2 separate regions of the Homo sapiens genome follow, and region 2 is linked to region 1. Evidence: fine-mapped expression QTL. A gene starts in region 1. The other region holds a variant in brackets. All regions are shown on one strand. Distances are from middle to middle.

Evidence for each region.
Region 2: its variant is fine-mapped to the expression of CCDC9B in liver (GTEx, PIP 0.93).

What each region holds. Positions count from the first base shown.
Region 1 is chr15:40,337,156-40,345,481 of GRCh38, reverse strand. CCDC9B (coiled-coil domain containing 9B) reads left to right here and starts at 4,543. Exons shown (of 11, transcript NM_207380.3): 1 at 4,543-4,674; 2 at 5,467-5,577; 3 at 5,863-5,970; 4 at 6,579-6,734; 5 at 6,822-6,947; 6 at 7,589-7,758; 7 at 8,036-8,094. The coding sequence starts at 4,663. RefSeq lists enhancers at 1-421, 422-1,019, 1,203-1,702, 4,647-5,450 and silencers at 633-722, 743-852.
Region 2 is chr15:40,568,041-40,576,366 of GRCh38, reverse strand. RPUSD2 (RNA pseudouridine synthase domain containing 2) reads right to left here and starts at 7,068. Exons shown (of 3, transcript NM_152260.3): 1 at 6,424-7,068; 2 at 4,467-4,763; 3 at 1,418-2,840. The coding sequence starts at 7,029. The coding sequence ends at 2,106. RefSeq lists enhancers at 6,437-6,486, 6,236-6,735, 6,797-7,126. The variant C/T (reference allele first, on the strand shown) is at 5,305.

The sequences.
Region 1 (8,326 bases):
CCATCCCATCTTCTGACAAAGCCGAGGGGAAGGGCAGGGGCCGGCTTGCTTATGTTTCATTGATCCAGCTTCAGGGGCAGCATTCCGGAAACAGAATGAGGTCTGAGATGTGCGGCCCTCGTGGGTGGAGCCTCTGCCAGGGCTGTGATCCCAGGGTTGCGGTGGCTCCACGTGTGGTTCGGAGGGTCTTTCCTCCCCTGCAGCCCCTTCCCTCTTTCTCCTCAGTGAGAATCCCAACTTGCAGCCATCTCGTTCTCAGGGCTGGTCCCAGGTCTGTGCTCTGAGGACCACGAATAGGGTCCAGATACGTTCCCTTCTGGACCTCAGGGGGTACCCCCTGAGCCAGCGGGTGGCCTGGGAGGGTGGGGGACCACAGGGAAGAGCCTGTGCCCGAGGTGCTGGGACACCCGGCCCAACCCCGGGTGGAGAGAGGGAGGGCACAGAGGGAAGGATCAGCAGAACGGCATTGGCGGGGCAGCCGGTGAAGGCGCCCTGGGCAGGAGGCAGCTCCCGGGTGTGTGGCCTCAGCGGCATCACAGACAGGCTGTGCCACCTGGGCAGAGGGCGCCACCTCTTTGGGCTTCAGCTTCCTCATCAATAAAATAAGTCTTCTACAACTAGATGGCTTCTCTAGTCTGATGGAGTTGGGAGGTGGAGGTTACAGGGACTTGGGGGAGGCCCTGTGGAACAACAGAGAAAGGGAACCGCCTCCCGCACCCAAAAACAGGCTGTTGTCGCTCTGCTGCCCCTTAGTGGCGACACAGAGAAACAGACACCCAGTCTCATGGGGATGGCAAGCTGGTCCTTCTCCATCTCCCCTGCTTCCTGTGGGCTTCTCCCCGGGGTGGGGTGGGGCTACTCTTAGGGCACCTTTACCACCCACCGGCTCCCTCAGGGCTGCGTACATTCTAGGTGGACAGAAAGGCAGTCCCAGCCTATGCATAGGATACCCACAGCTATGCACAGGATGGCAAGCACAATTCACGCATGTCTTCATTCTGGAAGTGCTGATGGAGGTTCTTTAGTATGCAGGGGCACCGTGCCAGACACTGGGGATCCAGAGGCACTTGGCAGGTCATTCCTGCCCTCAGAGAGCCTCTGTCCAATGGAGAGCAGACAGGCCAACCACAGACTCTGGGGAAAGTGGGAGACTGTGGGGGCTGCTCAGAGGTGTGACGTCATGTGTGAATAACACTGGGAAACACACAGTCAGCAGCTGCTGGTACCCCCCGTATGATGGTTGGTTTGTCTTGGGCACATACCCCTCTAGCCTGACAGACCAGAAGGCCTTTGCCCTAGGTGAGGGGAGTGTGTTCCTGCAGGCCCTTCCAGAAGAGCTGTGTGGCCATCCCACAGGCGATAAGCCTGTGCCCATGCCTTTACCCCCCTGCTACTCTCTTGCCCCCACCTTGTCTGGGAATGGGGGAGGGGGTACACAGCCTTGCCTTATCCCTGTAGCTTCCTTACCCCATCTACACATCTCCTCCCCAGACCTGGTCCGGGCCTGAGTTCTGAAGAGGCTGGAGAGCATTAGGTCTCCCTCCCCAGCAAGTGCTCTGCGGGCCTCCCAGCTCCAACACAGTGCGGGGCAGGCGAAGGGAAGTTTGAGGCTTCTGGAGGCTTCTGAAGCCTCCTGAGGCTGGCGTGGAACTCAGTCCACTGTATGGGGCAGGATGCAGAGCGTCTGGGAGAAGGAGAGAGAGTGTGTGCGTGTATGTGTGTGAGAGAGGCCCAGGGCACAAAGCCTGGGTGCGTCATGGTTGCTGGGAGAGTTTGACGAGTCTGACTCAGTGGGGACATCCGGCAGGAAAGGAAGGGAGAGCGCAGTGGCATTTGCAAGCAAGATGGGAACTCTGGGGTGGTGGAGATGGGGTGTGGGGCCAGGGGTGCTGTGCAAAGGCCTGGACAGGAAGAGGGCTAAGCCTGGCGGAGCTGGGGGAGGGAGTGGGGAGGAAAGGGCAGTTCTGGAGGGGTGGAGGTTGGACCTCTGGCTGCCTGGGTGGGTCTGGGAGGAGAAAGAAGGCAGCGGGGGTTTCTGCTCTGGAGACAGAGGGGACGAGTTGTGGCATTTGGGAAACTGGCCTGGTCAATCAGGGATGTGGGGAATGCAGGGGCTTCTGATTCTCACCTGAGGGCCTGGAGCTCAGGGCCTTGTAGCTGAGGAAACAGACTCCACGAATTCCTAGTCCAGAAAGACCACCCTCCTCTCAGCACCCCCAAGCCTTGAGTCCCAGAGGCTCTAGGAGCCTGGGCAGGGAGACCAGTCTCAGCTGTATGAGGAAGATATGGGGGAGGAGCTTTCCTGAGAAGGGCTGATTCCTTTGCCAGGTTCAGAGAGGCTGAAAAAGCCAGTCTTGGAGAGCAAGGCCAGGAAGGGCCCAAACTTAGGGCCCGAGGGAGGAAGGCTGTTGACCAGCTCTGAACTGCCATGGCAAGGGCCCTGGAGGAATGCCTGGCTCACCATACCAAAGGGCTAGAGACCCAAACAACAGAGCCTCTTGGAAGCGGCTGTGCTTTAAAACATAGTCATGTGTCTGCTAATGACAGGGCTATGTTCTGAGAAATACGTTGTTAGGTGGTTTTGTCATTGTGTGAACACCACAGAGAGCACTTACACAAACCTAGATGGTACAGCCTACTACACACCCAGGCTATATGGTATAGCTATTGCTCCTAGGCTACAAACCTGTACAGCAGGTTACTGTACTGCATACTGTAGGCAGCTGTAACACAGTGCTAAGTGTTTACATATCTAAACTTAGAAAAGATATAGTAAAAATATGGTGTACAAGATTTAAAATGGCACACCTGTATAGGGCACTTACCATGAATGAAGCCTGCAGGACTGGAGGTTGCTCTGGTGAGTCACTGAGTGAGTGATGAGTGAATCTGAAGGCCTAGGACATTACCGTCTGCTACTATAGATTTTATAAACACTGTACACTTACGTTAGACTAAATTTATACGAATGATTTTTTGGTCAGGCATGGTGGCTCATGCCTGTCATCCTAGTACTTTGGGAGGCCAAGGCAGGAGGATCACTTGAGCCTAGGTGTTCAAGACCAGCCTGTGCAACATAGCAAGACGTTCTCTCTACAAAAAATTTTAAAACTACCTGGACATGGTGGCATGCGCCTGTTGTCCAAGCTACTCAGGAGGCTGAGGCAGGGGGATCCCTTGAGCCCAGGAGGTTGAGGCTGCAGTGAGCCATGATCATGTCACTGACCTCTGGCTTGGGTGACAGAGTGAGACTGTCTCAAAAAATGAAAAATTAAAAAATATATATTTTTGTTTCTTCAGTAATAAATTAACCTTAGCTTACTGTAACCTTTTTACTTTATAAACTTTTTAATTTAAAAAAACTTTTTGACTCTCTTGGTAATAACCCTTAGCTTAAAACACAAACAAAACACATTGTACAGCTGTACAAAAATATTTTCTCTTTATATCCTTATTCTATAAGTTTTTTTGCTATTTTGAAACTTTTTCTTTTTTTTAACTTTTTAAACTTTTTTCTCAAAATCTAACACACACACATTAGCCTAGGCCTACACAGAGTCAGAATCATCAACATCACTGTCTTCCATTCCACATATTGACCCACTGGAAGGTCTTCAGGGGCATTAACAGGCCTGCAGCTGTCATCTCCTATGCTAACAATGCCTTCTGGATTTCCTCCTGAAGGACCTGCCCGAGGCTGTTTTACAGTTCACTTTTTTTTGTTGTTGTTGTAAGTAGAAGAAATACACTCTAAAATAATGATAAAAAGTATAGTATAGTAAATACATAAGCCAGTAACATAATTGTTAATTATCATTATCAGGTATTCTGTACTGTGCACACTTGTATGTGCCATACTTTTGTGCGGCTGTCATGCCGTAGGTCTGTTTACACAAGCGTCACCATAAGCACATAAGTAGTGCCCTGTGCTACCATGTTATAATGGCTACAATGTCACTAAGCCATAGGAATTTGTAGCTCCATTATAATCTTATGGGACCACCATCATATATGTGGTCCATTGTTGAGTGAAACGTCATTATATGGTGCATGACTGCACAGAGAAGACAATGTCCAACCTAAAAGAATGAATGACTATTGTTGTCATTTTAGGGATGTGGTAGTACTTGGTAGTCTAGGGGAGGTGAGCTTCTTGATCCCTTTGAATTACTTAAACCAAGGCTGATGAGGAGAAGGAGCAGGAGAGGGCAGGCGCATCTGTGTGCTGTAGGCCTTTTTCTACTCATGGGAGGCACAGAGGCCTACGCTGGCTGCCCATCTTGTCTGCAGGCAGGCCCAGGCTGGGGTCCTGCTGGGGCCTAGGCAGCCAGGCCTCCTGTGTAGGCTTGACCCACCAGGGAGAAGTCCCTACCAGTCTGTCTGGGGACGCTGGGGTGGGGCAGGGAGAGGTGCTAGGCAGGACCAGCCAGCTGCCAGTGCCCTGGTCCTCGCCCTCTGAGAGTGGAAGGGTGGGGGTGGCGGCCCGACGTTCCTGGCTGGGAGCCCAGAGGAGTCTTTTGTAATCACAACATGATCTCGTGTGCTGAGCAGCGAAGCCGGCAGGGAGAGGCCGGCAGAGGCCCGGCTCCGGTGGCTCCAGCTTTCCTCCCACTCTGGCTCCCCAGGGGCTGCTCTGGAATTCTCTCGGTGCCCGCCGTTGCCATGCACTCGGCTGTGAGTGGCAGTCTGCCTTTGGCAGGGGGCTTCTTGGGACTGGGAGGGGGCTGGGATACCAGGCAGCCACCCTCTGGGGGCAGCTGGGGACAGCTGGGGCTGGGAGGAAGAAGGCTGTGACTAGGGTCACAACAGAGAACCTGCATCCAGACAGAGAGGAACCTGGAATCTTGATGCAGAGACATGGCTTGCCCAGGGTGACTCCTGGGCTGGGGCCGCCAGGGGAGCTGGCTCTCTCCGCCCCGACTACCAGCAGCTTTCGGCCTGGAGAGGCTGGGCCCCTGGGAGCGGCTCTTTCCTCCAGGCTGGGCACAGGCCTAGGTGCGGGGTCCAGGGCCTGAGAGCCCAGGACGGAGCCAGGGCCTCTCCTTTTTCTCTGGTTGTGGATCTGGGAGCCAAACAGCTCCCCCCTCGACCTCCCGAATCCCCTGGCAGCTTCCCAGTCACGGCAGGTTCCGCTGCCAGAGCCATTTATAACTCCCATTCCAGGCTCTGCTCGGCAGTGAAGCTCCCTGGAGAGCTGGGGGAGGGGCACCCCACTGCTGGGAGCTGTGGCTTGGGGTATGAGGCCCTGACCTGAGCCCCCTGAGGAGGCAGGGACAGGCAGACGGGCCTAGCTGGAATGGGGGCTTGGGGCCTTATTTGGGCCATCTCCCTAAGCAATCCCCTTCCTTCCTGGGTGACCTTAGCTGTGGGTCTGGGATCTCTTCCTTGGGTGGTGAAAATGTGAAAGCTGGGGACTGGTGAGAGGGGGACCCGGAAGTCAGGAGCTTGGGTTCCCTGCCTCTGCAGGGAACTCCCAGAGCCGAGTCCCCCATGAGCAGGCAGGAGAAGGACGCAGAGCTGGATCGGAGGATAGTTGCCCTGCGCAAGAAGAACCAGGCCTTGCTCCGCAGGTACCAGGTGAGTGGGCTGCCACAGGGCCAGGAGAAACCACTTGGCTGCCGCTCCCTGTGCCCCACACGTGGTGGTCTCCCTGCAGGCTCAGCAATGCGCCTCTGGGGCTGGGGCCAGGGGTAGGGTGGGCATGGTCCCTCTTAGAGGCTTGGTGAGGGTCCTGGGGATGTGTGATGTGGCGCCTCTGCCCCCTGGTGTCCCACTGGTGTCTCTCTGTGTAGGCCTATCAGCATCTATGTCTCTGTGCACCTGGGGGGCCATGGCGTGTGCTGACCCCCAGCCCTCCCACAGGAGATCCAGGAGGACCGTCGGCAGGCAGAGCAGGGGGGGATGGCTGTGACCACACCAGCACTCCTCCAGCCTGATGGCCTCACCGTTACCATCAGCCAGGTTCCCGGTGTAAGCCTCACCCTGGGAGACAGGGCTCGTAGCAAGGAGGTGGAGGCCCAGACCATGTCGGGGAAAGACAGCTGCCTCTGTTCCCCTCTCCTACTAACTATTCTGGGGTGCACCTGCCAGCTCCCAACCTCCTGCAGTCGGACCACTGCTGTCCCCACCAAAGAGCCACAGCTGAAAGCCCCCCTACCCCCAGTAGATGCATCTTCATACCCTTTTCCAGTCCACAGCCCTGCGCCTATGCCACAAAGCACAGGCCACTCCTAAACCTCAAGCCCCAGGGGCTAAAACCCTGCAGGAAGTGGGGGACAGAGAAGTTGGGGCTGAATGCCAGGAGCAGTGTCTGAGGGACAGAGACCCATTGTTTGAGTGCTCTGGGTTTCCCAGCTCAGAGATGACGGGCCACTGTGGCATCTTGGGCCGCTGGGTGGCCCTGGGCCCTGGATAACCTCATGCCATTGGCATGTGAACACCCTGTGGGAGTCAGCTCTTCTGTGGGGAATGCAGGGAGGGCTGGGGTTGGAACCCAGGCCTGGGGAACCACCGAGAGGACCCAGCACCCAGGTCCTGCCCAGCACTGCCCATGTGGCCTGAGGGTCTTTGTTCTGCAGGAAAAGCGGGTGGTTAGCAGGAACTGGGCAAGGGGTACCTGTGGACCCAGAGTGACCAACGAGATGCTTGAGGATGAGGATGCTGAGGACCACGGGGGTACTTTCTGCTTAGGGGAGCTGGTGGAGCTGGCTGTGACCATGGAGAACAAAGCAGAGGTGAGCAGGGTGGTGGGGAGTGCAGGCATCGGCAGGCAGCCTCTTCCTCCCTGGCTCTGCTGCACTGCCCATCTTCATCCTCCCCAGGGCAAACGGATTGTAAGTGAAAAGCCTACCAGAGCAAGGAACCAAGGCATAGAGGGGTCACCTGGAGGGCGTGTGACCCGAAGCCCCCCCACGCAGGTGGCCATCAGCTCAGATTCTGCACGGAAGGTGTGTCTTCAAGAGGGGATGGGGACATGGATCTGAAGGTCCTCACTTGGGGGAGGCAGAGAAGCTGAGTCAGATATGTCCCTCATTTGCGGGGACGTGGCCAAGGGAGCACATGCAGGAGTTCCTGCTCCTCCTCCCTTTCTCTGGCCAGTCTCTACTTTGGGTGGGCCTTGAAGTGGGAGACAGTTTAAGCCAAAGATGTGATCCAGCCCCCTCCCCTATTTAGCCCTGCTGATGGTGGCATGGGAGTTGGGGAGGGGGCAGGAGGGTGGAGTTGACTGGCCAAGTGCCAGGTGTGACCTCTAGGTGGCAGCAGCCCCTAGTCCTTGCCCTTGCTCACAGCTTCCAGGGCCCCTCCCACTCCGGCCCGTCTGCATACCCCTGCAACACCCCTGTGGGTTGGTGCTACGGAGATCCTCCCCATTTTACACGAGGAAATGAGACACAGAGAGGTTAAATTACTTATGTAAAACACACAGCTAACAAGTGGATGGAAACCATTTCCACGGGAGAGCTGGAACAGGCCTAATTTTTAGCTGGAGATGTGGAAACCTTGAGAGAGGAAGCGCCTGGAGTCTCCAAACCCCACCCCAAGCCTCTTCCTGCTTCTCCCCCTCACTCTGAGTGTCTTCTCCCTACAGGGTTCTTGGGAGCCCTGGAGCCGGCCGGTGGGGGAGCCCCCGGAGGCGGGCTGGGACTATGCCCAGTGGAAGCAGGAGCGGGAGCAGATCGACCTAGCCCGCCTCGCCCGGCACAGAGACGCACAGGGTGACTGGCGCCGCCCGTGGGACCTGGACAAGGCCAAGTCCACGTGGGTGGCTGGGTTGGGCAGGTTGCCTGTGGTGCGGGATGGAGCTGGCTTCGGGCACTGCTGGGAGGGCTGCAGGGACCCTCCTCGGGGTTGAGAGGACCTTGCTGGGCATTCTGGTCGAGCCCAGGGTTCAAGGCTCTGGGTCTCCCATCTTTCTTGGGCCCACCATCTCCCTGCTGCCTTCAATTCTGGGCCTGGGCTTCGGGGAGGGGGGTGTCAGGGTGGGGCCCGCGGCAGCTTCTGTGCACCAGCAACCTGACTCCCTCTGTCTACACAGGCTACAGGACTGCAGCCAGCTGAGGGGAGAAGGCCCGGCCAGGGCAGGCAGCAGAAGGGGTGAGCCCACACCTACCTCATCCCTCCCCTCCTTGGCTTTGTTCATCTTTCACCCCCTTGTCCTCTCTTTTCTCTGTCTCTTAGTCTCTTATTTTCAGAGCTGAAAGGAAGCGTTGGAGAACATCTTCCTTCCTCTCCCTCACTATCAGAGGAGGGCACCAAGACCTCCCATCCTCCCCTCTGAGCCCACAGCTCTTGTCCAGGTTCTGAGCAGAAGGCCCCAGAAGGAGGC
Region 2 (8,326 bases), 230 kb before region 1:
TTAGTGAGGATGTGAAGAAATCGGACCCTTGTGCAGTTTGTAGGATTGTAAAATGCTGCAACCACTATGAAAAACAGTATGGAGGCTCTTCCAAAAATATAAATTAGTATTACCATATACCCAACTATTCCTCTTCTGGAATTTCCTCCCATCCTGTAGGCTGTCTTTTCACTTTTTTGATAGTGTCTTTTGATTCGCAAAAGTCCTTATTTTGATAAAGTGCAATTTATTTATTTTGTATTTCATTGATTATTATTTTGGTGTTGTATCTAAGAACCCATTGCCAAATTTAAGGTCTTGAAGATTTACCCCAATATTTTCTTCTAAGACTTTTCCTGGGCTCAACTAATCCTTTTGCCTCAGCCTTCCGAGTACCTAGGGCTACAGGCGTACATCATCGCACGCAGCTGATTTATTTATTTATTGTAGAGATAAGGTCTTGCTATGTTGCCCAGGGTGTTCTCAAACTTCTGGCCTCAAGGGATCCTCCTGCCTCGGCCTCCCAAAGTGTTGGGATTGTAGGTGTAAGCCATTGTCCTTGGCCTATTTTCAGTTAATTTTTGTGTATGAGGTAGGGGTCTAACTTTTTTCTTTTTTATGTGAATACCCAGTTTTCCCAGCACGAACTGTTTAAGAAAAAACACATTTGTTTAAGACTATTCTCTCCCCACTGAACAGTCTTAGCACTTTTGTCAAAAACCAATTGACCTTAGATGGATGGGTTTATTTCTTGACTCTTGATTTTATTCCATCACTCTATGTCTATTCTTATACTAATGCCACAGTTTTGATTTGCATTCCCTGATAACTAATAATGTTCAGCTTTTTTTTTTTTCATATGTTAGCTGGTCATTTGTATATCTTCTTTGGAAAAATGTCTATTCCAATCCTTTGCCCATTTTTAAGTTGGGCTGTTAGTCTTTTTGCTAAGACTCTCACATCCAGAATATATAAAGAACACTTACACTCCACAACAAAAAGACTAACAACCCAGAATGAGATGCCACTTCACTCCTACTAGGATGACTATAATCAAAACAAAACAAATGTTGGTGAAGATGTAGAGAAATTGAAACCCTATGCTTGCTGGTGGCAATATAAAATGGTTCAGCTGCTGTGGAAAAGTTTGGTGGATTCTCAAACATTTAAACATAGAATTACCATATGACCCAGCAATTCCACTGTGAGGTATATACCCAAAAGAACTGAAAACATATTTAATGTTCACAGCAGCACTATCCACAATAATGAAATGGTGGAAACAACCCAAATGTCCATTAACTGATGAACAGATAGACAAATCGTGGTATATCCATACAACAGCTTATTCTGCCATAAAAAAAGAATGAAGTACCGATACATGCTACAAGTTGAATAAACCTTGAAAACATTATGCCAAGGGAAACAGAGACATAGGTCACATGTTTTATCATTCCATTTATATAAAATGTCCAGAATAAACAGGCAAATCCAAACAGACAGAAAGTAGATTAGTGGTTGCCAGAGGCTGGTGGAAGGGGAGTGGAAAGTGACCACTTACTTAATGGGTACAGGTTTCCTTTTGGGGTGATGAAAATGTTTTGGAAATATATGAGGTTATGGTTGTACAACACTGTGAATGTACTAAATGTGACTACGCTGTACATCTTAAATTGGTTAATTTTTTTTTTTTTTAAGAGACAGGGTCTCACTCTGTCACCTAGGCTCTGGAGTGCAGCAGCACAATCACAGTTCACTTTAACCTTGAACTCTTGGCCTCCAGTGATCCTTTCACTTCTACCTCCCAAAGTACTAGGATTATAGCCATGAGCCACTGTGCCTGGCTAGTTAAAGTGGTTAATTTTATGTTATGTGAATTTTACATCAGTAATAAAAAAGAAGCCGGAAGAAAACCAGACATCAAAGATGTTAGAAAAAGGGATATATTTACAAACCAAAAAGTCTCCAAATTCCCACTGGAAGGAGGTAGCAAGTATGAGCAGGTCTCTTTAGAAGCCCGTCCTCATTCCTATAGAAACCCCAAGTACTAGCCCATGGGGTCAGCCCTTGCCCTATAGCCCATCCTTGTCACAACCCAAGAAGCAATCCCTCCATTGGCCACACCCTCAGTCCTTTTGCCAGTCATCCTGTGCCCAGGCAGGCATTGGTGAAAAGTACTCAAAGCCTGGCCCTTTATAGCGTAGGGCATGTAGGAACATCACAAGGTCTTGGGGCAAGGGATCCTGTCGCACCAGCCGGCACTCTGCACAGAGTGGGTCTGTCTCTTGATTCATGACATCTGTTTCAACTGCCTTCTCTGATGCCAAGGCTATTGTGTCCAACTCCTGAGGGGCTGCCTCAGCTACTTCCTCCATCTTCTGGGCAGCTGCAGCCAACTCTTCCAGGTCGTCCTTGCCCAACTCTGAGGAGGGGGCCGTAGAGTCTGTGAGTCCTGGGGACAGGTCACCCTCACAGAGATCTAGCACATCCAGGCTCTGTTTGGCCTGGTGCTCTGCTACCAGGTCCCGTAGCAACTCCTCGTTTGTCTTGGGAATGTAGCCGCCCCGGCCTCGAGAAGGACCCCAGGCAACTGAGTTGTAGATGGGGTCGTTGAGAATGGGATGGCCCAAGAACTGAAGGTGGACTCGAATCTGGTGTGTGCGGCCTGTGAGTGGCCGGCACCGTACCACACTGGACTGGCCATTGTAGCTTAGCCTCTGGAACACTGTCTCACAGGGCTTGCCCCGGGGATCTACACGGCACACCCCTACTTTGTAAGACACCACTAAGATGGGTTCTTTACAGGTCACTTCCTCAGTGGGGAACTCCCCTTCCACCCGGCACACGTACTCCTTCTCCAGCTACATAGGAGGGAAGAGGGAGAAAGTCAGTACAAAGCCTAAATTCATGGAGTCCAAACTCTTTGTGGAGTGATAAGGACCAGTGTCAGAAAATTCAAACTCCAGCTCTACCATTCGCCAGTTTTGCGATCTTGGGTACATTACTTAACCTCTAAATCCTACTAACTCATCTAGAAAATGTGAAATTAGAAAAGCATTTACCAGCTGGGTGAGGTGGCTCACGCCTGTAATCCCAGCACTTTGGGAAGCTGAGGTGGGTGGATCACCTGAGGTCGAAAGTTCGAGACCAGCCTGACCAACATGAAGAAACCCCGTCTCTACTAAAAAATACAAAATTAGCCAGGCGTGGTGGCGCATGCCAGTCATCCCAGCTACCTGGGAGGCTGAGGCAGGATAATTGCTTGAACCCAGGAGGCGGAGGTTGCAGTGAGCCAGGATCACACCATTGCACTCCAGACTGGGCAACAAGAGCGAAACTCCATCTCAAAAAAAAAAAAAAAAAAAAAGAAAAGAAAAGAAAAGCATTTACCTCATTGGGCTGTGATAAGCATTCAGTAAGTTAGGCTCTAATGTGCTTGATACTAAGCCTGGTATATAGCATGCACTCAATAAATGTATTATGATTCAGATCCAGAATTACAAGTCTCAGGACAACAATCATTACCATTAAACTCCTCTACCCAAGACTTTTCCAACTACATCTAGAATCTTTTCACCAAGCAGGCTCTCCCCATAATCTTAAAAGCCTTGCTCAGCCTGTCAGCACTTTATTTTCTTATGTTAATTTATTTCTTTGAGACGGAGTCTTGTTCTATAGCTCAGGCTGGAACGCAGTGACATGCTCATGGCTCACTGCAGCCTCAACCTCCCATGGCCAAGTGATCCTCCTATCTCAGCCTCCCAAGTAGCTGGGACTACAGGCATGTGCCACCATGCCAGGGTAAGTTTTTTTTTTTTTTTTTGAGACAGAGTCTCACTCTGTCACCCAGGCTGGAGTGCGGTGGCGCGATTCGGCTCACTGCAAGCTCCACCTCTTGGGTTCACACCATTCTCCTGCCTCAGCCTCCCGAGTAGCTGGGACTATAGGTGCCCGCCACCACGCCCAGCTAATTTTTTGTATTTTTTTTTAGTAGAGACGGGGTTTCACCGTGTTAGCCAGGATGACCTCGATCTCCTGACCTCGTGATCTGCCCGCCTCGGCCTCCCAAAGTGTTGGGATTACAGGCGTGAGCCACTGCGCCTGGCCTTTTTTTTTTTTTTTTGTAGAGATAGGGTCTCCCTATTTTGCCCAGGCTGGTCTCTACCTCCTGGGCTCAAGCTATCCTCCCACCTCAGCCTCCCAAAATGCTGGGATTACAGGTGTGAGCCTGGCCTTGTCAGCATTTTAAAGCTTCAAAATAGCAAACTACTAAGAGAGGCAGTGTATGCCATCTCTAAAGATTTTTTTGGAAACATATGAGATATCCTGCATTTGGCACTTTAGGTGTTGACCTGCCTTAAGGTAGGAAGGTAGGAAGGATGGCCAGATAAATATGAAGGACCACTTCGGAACTCCATGATGCCCTTTTGACACAGAGCATTCGTGAGCCCAAGAAGTGGCCTGTAGGAGACAAAAGCCTGACTCACCTGCCGGTCCCGAACCTGCTCGTGAATTCTCTCAGAGACTGCAGCTGTCTTGGCAAACATAAGCACCCCTGAGGTAAGGCGGTCAAGCCGATGCAAGGGGTGTAGCTCCTTGAGTTGGTGCTCCTTGCCTAGGATGAAGATAACTGTGTTGTGTCGGAAGCGGCCACAGGGGTGAACGGGAATGGAGGAAGGCTTGTCTACAACCACCACATCTTCGTTCTCAGCTAGCAGGCGAATGGGCTCTGCTGTGACTGGTGGCTCATGCCTGTGCACTGTGTTCCGCAAGAAATCATTGTCCTGTCAAAGACATAGGTAATAAGTCAGCCTAGGGACCGCAGCCTGTAATCAGTCAACTTCATATCCAGCTTCCCCTGTTCCTCACTGACATGGAAAAATGGTGAAAGCACATCTTGGGCTGAAAAAGCAGTGTGCAGAGTGTGATCTCATTTTGTAAAAATACAGACAGACACAGGCAGATAGCTGGCACTGAAAAAGTACTGGAAGGACATATGCAAAAATGTTAACTGTGTTATCTCTGGGTGGTTAGATTATGAATGTTTTTTGGCTTTGCTAATTGTATTTTCTCTACAATAAAGGTATTTAAAAGGTAAAATTTTTTAGCCGGGCGCAGTGGCTCACGCCTCTAATCCCAGCACTTTGGGAGGCTGAGGTGGGTGGATCACGAGATCAAGACCATCCTGGCTAACATGGTCAAACTCTGTCTCTACTAAAAATACAAAAATTAGCAGGCGTGGTGGCACATGCCTGTAATCCCAGCTACTTGGGAGACTGAGGCAGGAGAATCGCTTGAACCTGGGAGGCGGAGGTTGCAGTGAGC[C/T]GAGATCGCGCCACTACACGCCAGCCTGGGCAACAGAGCAAGACTCTGTCTCAAAAAAAAAAAAAATAAATAATCAAGGTAAAATTTTTTTAATGGAGGAAAAAACCTCCATAAATCATCACTTATTACGATCTTGAACAAACAAAACTAAGGCTTAAGTCCAGGGATATGGGCTCTAGACCAGGATTTGCCACAGGCTCGCTACATGCTCTTGGGCAAGTCATTTATCTTTTCTGGGTCTCTGCTTCCTGTGGAATGTGAGGGTTAGACCAGATCTGTGCTTTAGAAATTGGGATAGGAGAGGGAATTCGTCAATGTATGATATATTGACGCAAATCGATTGATCAATGGAACAAGTTACTCCAAAACCATCCATTCCCCAAATGCTGTAATCGCCTTTTCTCCACTCACAACCATGGTAAACTAGTGTTACTGAGAGGTAAACAGTGTTACTTCTGACAGGGGTGTCTGGTACCTCATAGATGTGATGGAATTTTAAAGGAGTCAAAGCACTGGGCTAAACAATTCTAGTCTCTATCCCTGACATCTCATAACTCTATGTTAAATAGTTTAAGTAGTAGTTATAGGAACATAGGCTTTGGTAGTGGCACTGTTGATAGCCTTACCCCTGTGAGTTTCCTTAGTTTCCTCAGAGGTAAAATGGAGTGGCAATACCTACTTCACAAGGCTGTCATTAGAATTAGTGGACATACAATGTTTAACTTTGTGCCCAGCACACAGTAAAGAGACATAAATGATAGCCCCTATTATTACTATTTGCACAGAGATCTACAACGCAGGGTAAAGTGATCAGTGCCCTTGCCACAAGACGGTGTTTAAAGGAATTATGAAAATTCCAACTTCTGTCCCTTGGAAACAAGGAAGCTGCCTTGAGGAAGAGGATAAACAGGCTGAGTCCTGAAGCACAGACACCCTGGCCACTTGCGGAGGTGGGAAACGGGCTAAAATAGTGTTCCAAATGAAAGCGAGAACGCTTTAGAATTGCCATGATTTTAATCCAGTACCTATGCTTTACTAAGACTAAAAAACAAAACAAAACAAAACAAAACCCGGCCCCTTTTCCTCGCCCGCTTCTGGCCAGCCCCATCAGGACTCCACCTTGAGCACGATGTTGAGGTCCTGCACCGGCTTCTCGTTGAGTTGCAGGCGGCCCGCCCGGACCGCGGCCTCATAGTAGGCCAGGGGCTGAGCTCGGAACTCGGTACTGAAGACGTGCAGCAAGCTGTGGCCCACCCAGCGACCTTTGCAGTAGGTCCGGAAGTCAAAGTAATAGGGCCGCACCTTACGCAGGCCGCCCTCGAAGTAATAACTGGTTTCTGCAAAGTGCTCATCTCCGAAGCTCACCCCGGTCCGCCGCTTCTTCGGGGGCGGCACGACACGCTCCCTGGTTGCGCCCCGCCGCTTCTTATGCTTGCCCGGGCCTGGGGCTGCAGCCGAGGGATGCTCCCCGCCTACTGGGGCCGGCTCCACTTCCCGGCCAGCCGGCTTCGGGGGCCCGGGGGACAGCTCAACCTTCGCGTCGCCACCAGCGTCACCGTTTTGCTGATGCGAAGCCCTCAGCCCGCCCTCTGTCCCAACCTGGGTAGACACTGTTTCTGCCATTGGGCCCTTATCGCCACTCCAAGTCCTGGTAAAGCTAGGGCGCCTAAGGTCGTAGCGCCAATGTCCAAGAACCCTGAGCCATCCGCGGCGGTCCAGCCACATAACCACGCTGCCCCCACTCCACTCCCAGGGTCGCGATCTGAGGACGTCACTCGGCCCCAGCGAATCAGGGAGGCCCAGTCCCGAGGCGGGGTCTGCGATAAGTGAGCGAATGAGTGAGCTGCTCGAATTAAATTAGGTGAATTGAGTGAGCTTAGAGATGAGAGACTGTAAATGTCTCACCAAAAGTGACCTTACTCAGACGTCTTCCTATTAGGGAGATACGACGTTATTTATAAAGGAAACCCTTGGAATTGCTCCGTGTAAAGGCCATGACAGGAGTAGGTCGTGTAAATTCCGAGTAGTCCCTTGGGTCTGAAGAAACGCTTGAAAGGAGCTTTATTTAAGACAAAACAAAAACTAACAACCAGAATAAAGATTGCTAAACTCTGCGAATATACTAAAACCCACTGTATTCTATATTTTAAAAGGGTCAATATTATAGTATGTGACTTGTATCTCAGTAAGATTGTTATATATGTATTTAAAACACACACAAGCACCCCAGAAGCAATGTGTTCACACCTGTGTTTCCCCCTAACAGCATGAGAAGGATTAGTGATCCCCATTCGCCTCCCACATGCTTCCATCCTGAGATTAAAACTGCAAATAGATCAGAGGATATATGGCGAGGGTTCTTAAGTGCAAAATAAACCAACTCTGGCTAATTTCATCAGAGATAGAATTATGGAAAGTATATTAGTGCCTCATAGAATTCACAAGACAACTGGAGACTAGGCTCAGAAAAAGGGCCAAATCAAGGGAAACCAAGCCTTTTGAGAGCCTGGCTTCAGACATGTCAGGGAAGAAACCCAGTTGGGATGCAGTAGACACAAGAAACTATGTTGTGCCAAAGGACTCTTTTTCCTGCAGCCCTGCCACCCCTTGGAGACCCCTAAATCTCCCTGTGTCTCTGTGTCCCTCTTCCAAGGTTAAGAGTCCTGCAGGGGAGGACTTCCATCAGCCAAACCTCATTGCTCTGAGCCCTCACTTCCAGGGTGCCTGGAGATGGAAGAATTTAACCCTCTTTTTTTTTTTTTTTTTTTTTTTTTTTGAGACGGAGTCTTGCTCTGTCGCCCAGGCTGGAGTGCAGTGGAGCGATTTCACCTCACTGCAACCTCCGCCTCCTGAGTTCAAGCCATTCTTCTGCCTCAGCCTCCTGAGTGGCTGGGACTACAGGCACGCACCACCACGCCTGGCTAATTTTTATATTATGAGTGCTGGGATTACAGGCGTAAGCCACCGCGCCCGGCCAAGAATCTAACCCTCTTTGGTATCCAGAGTGGGATTCTTCCAAATA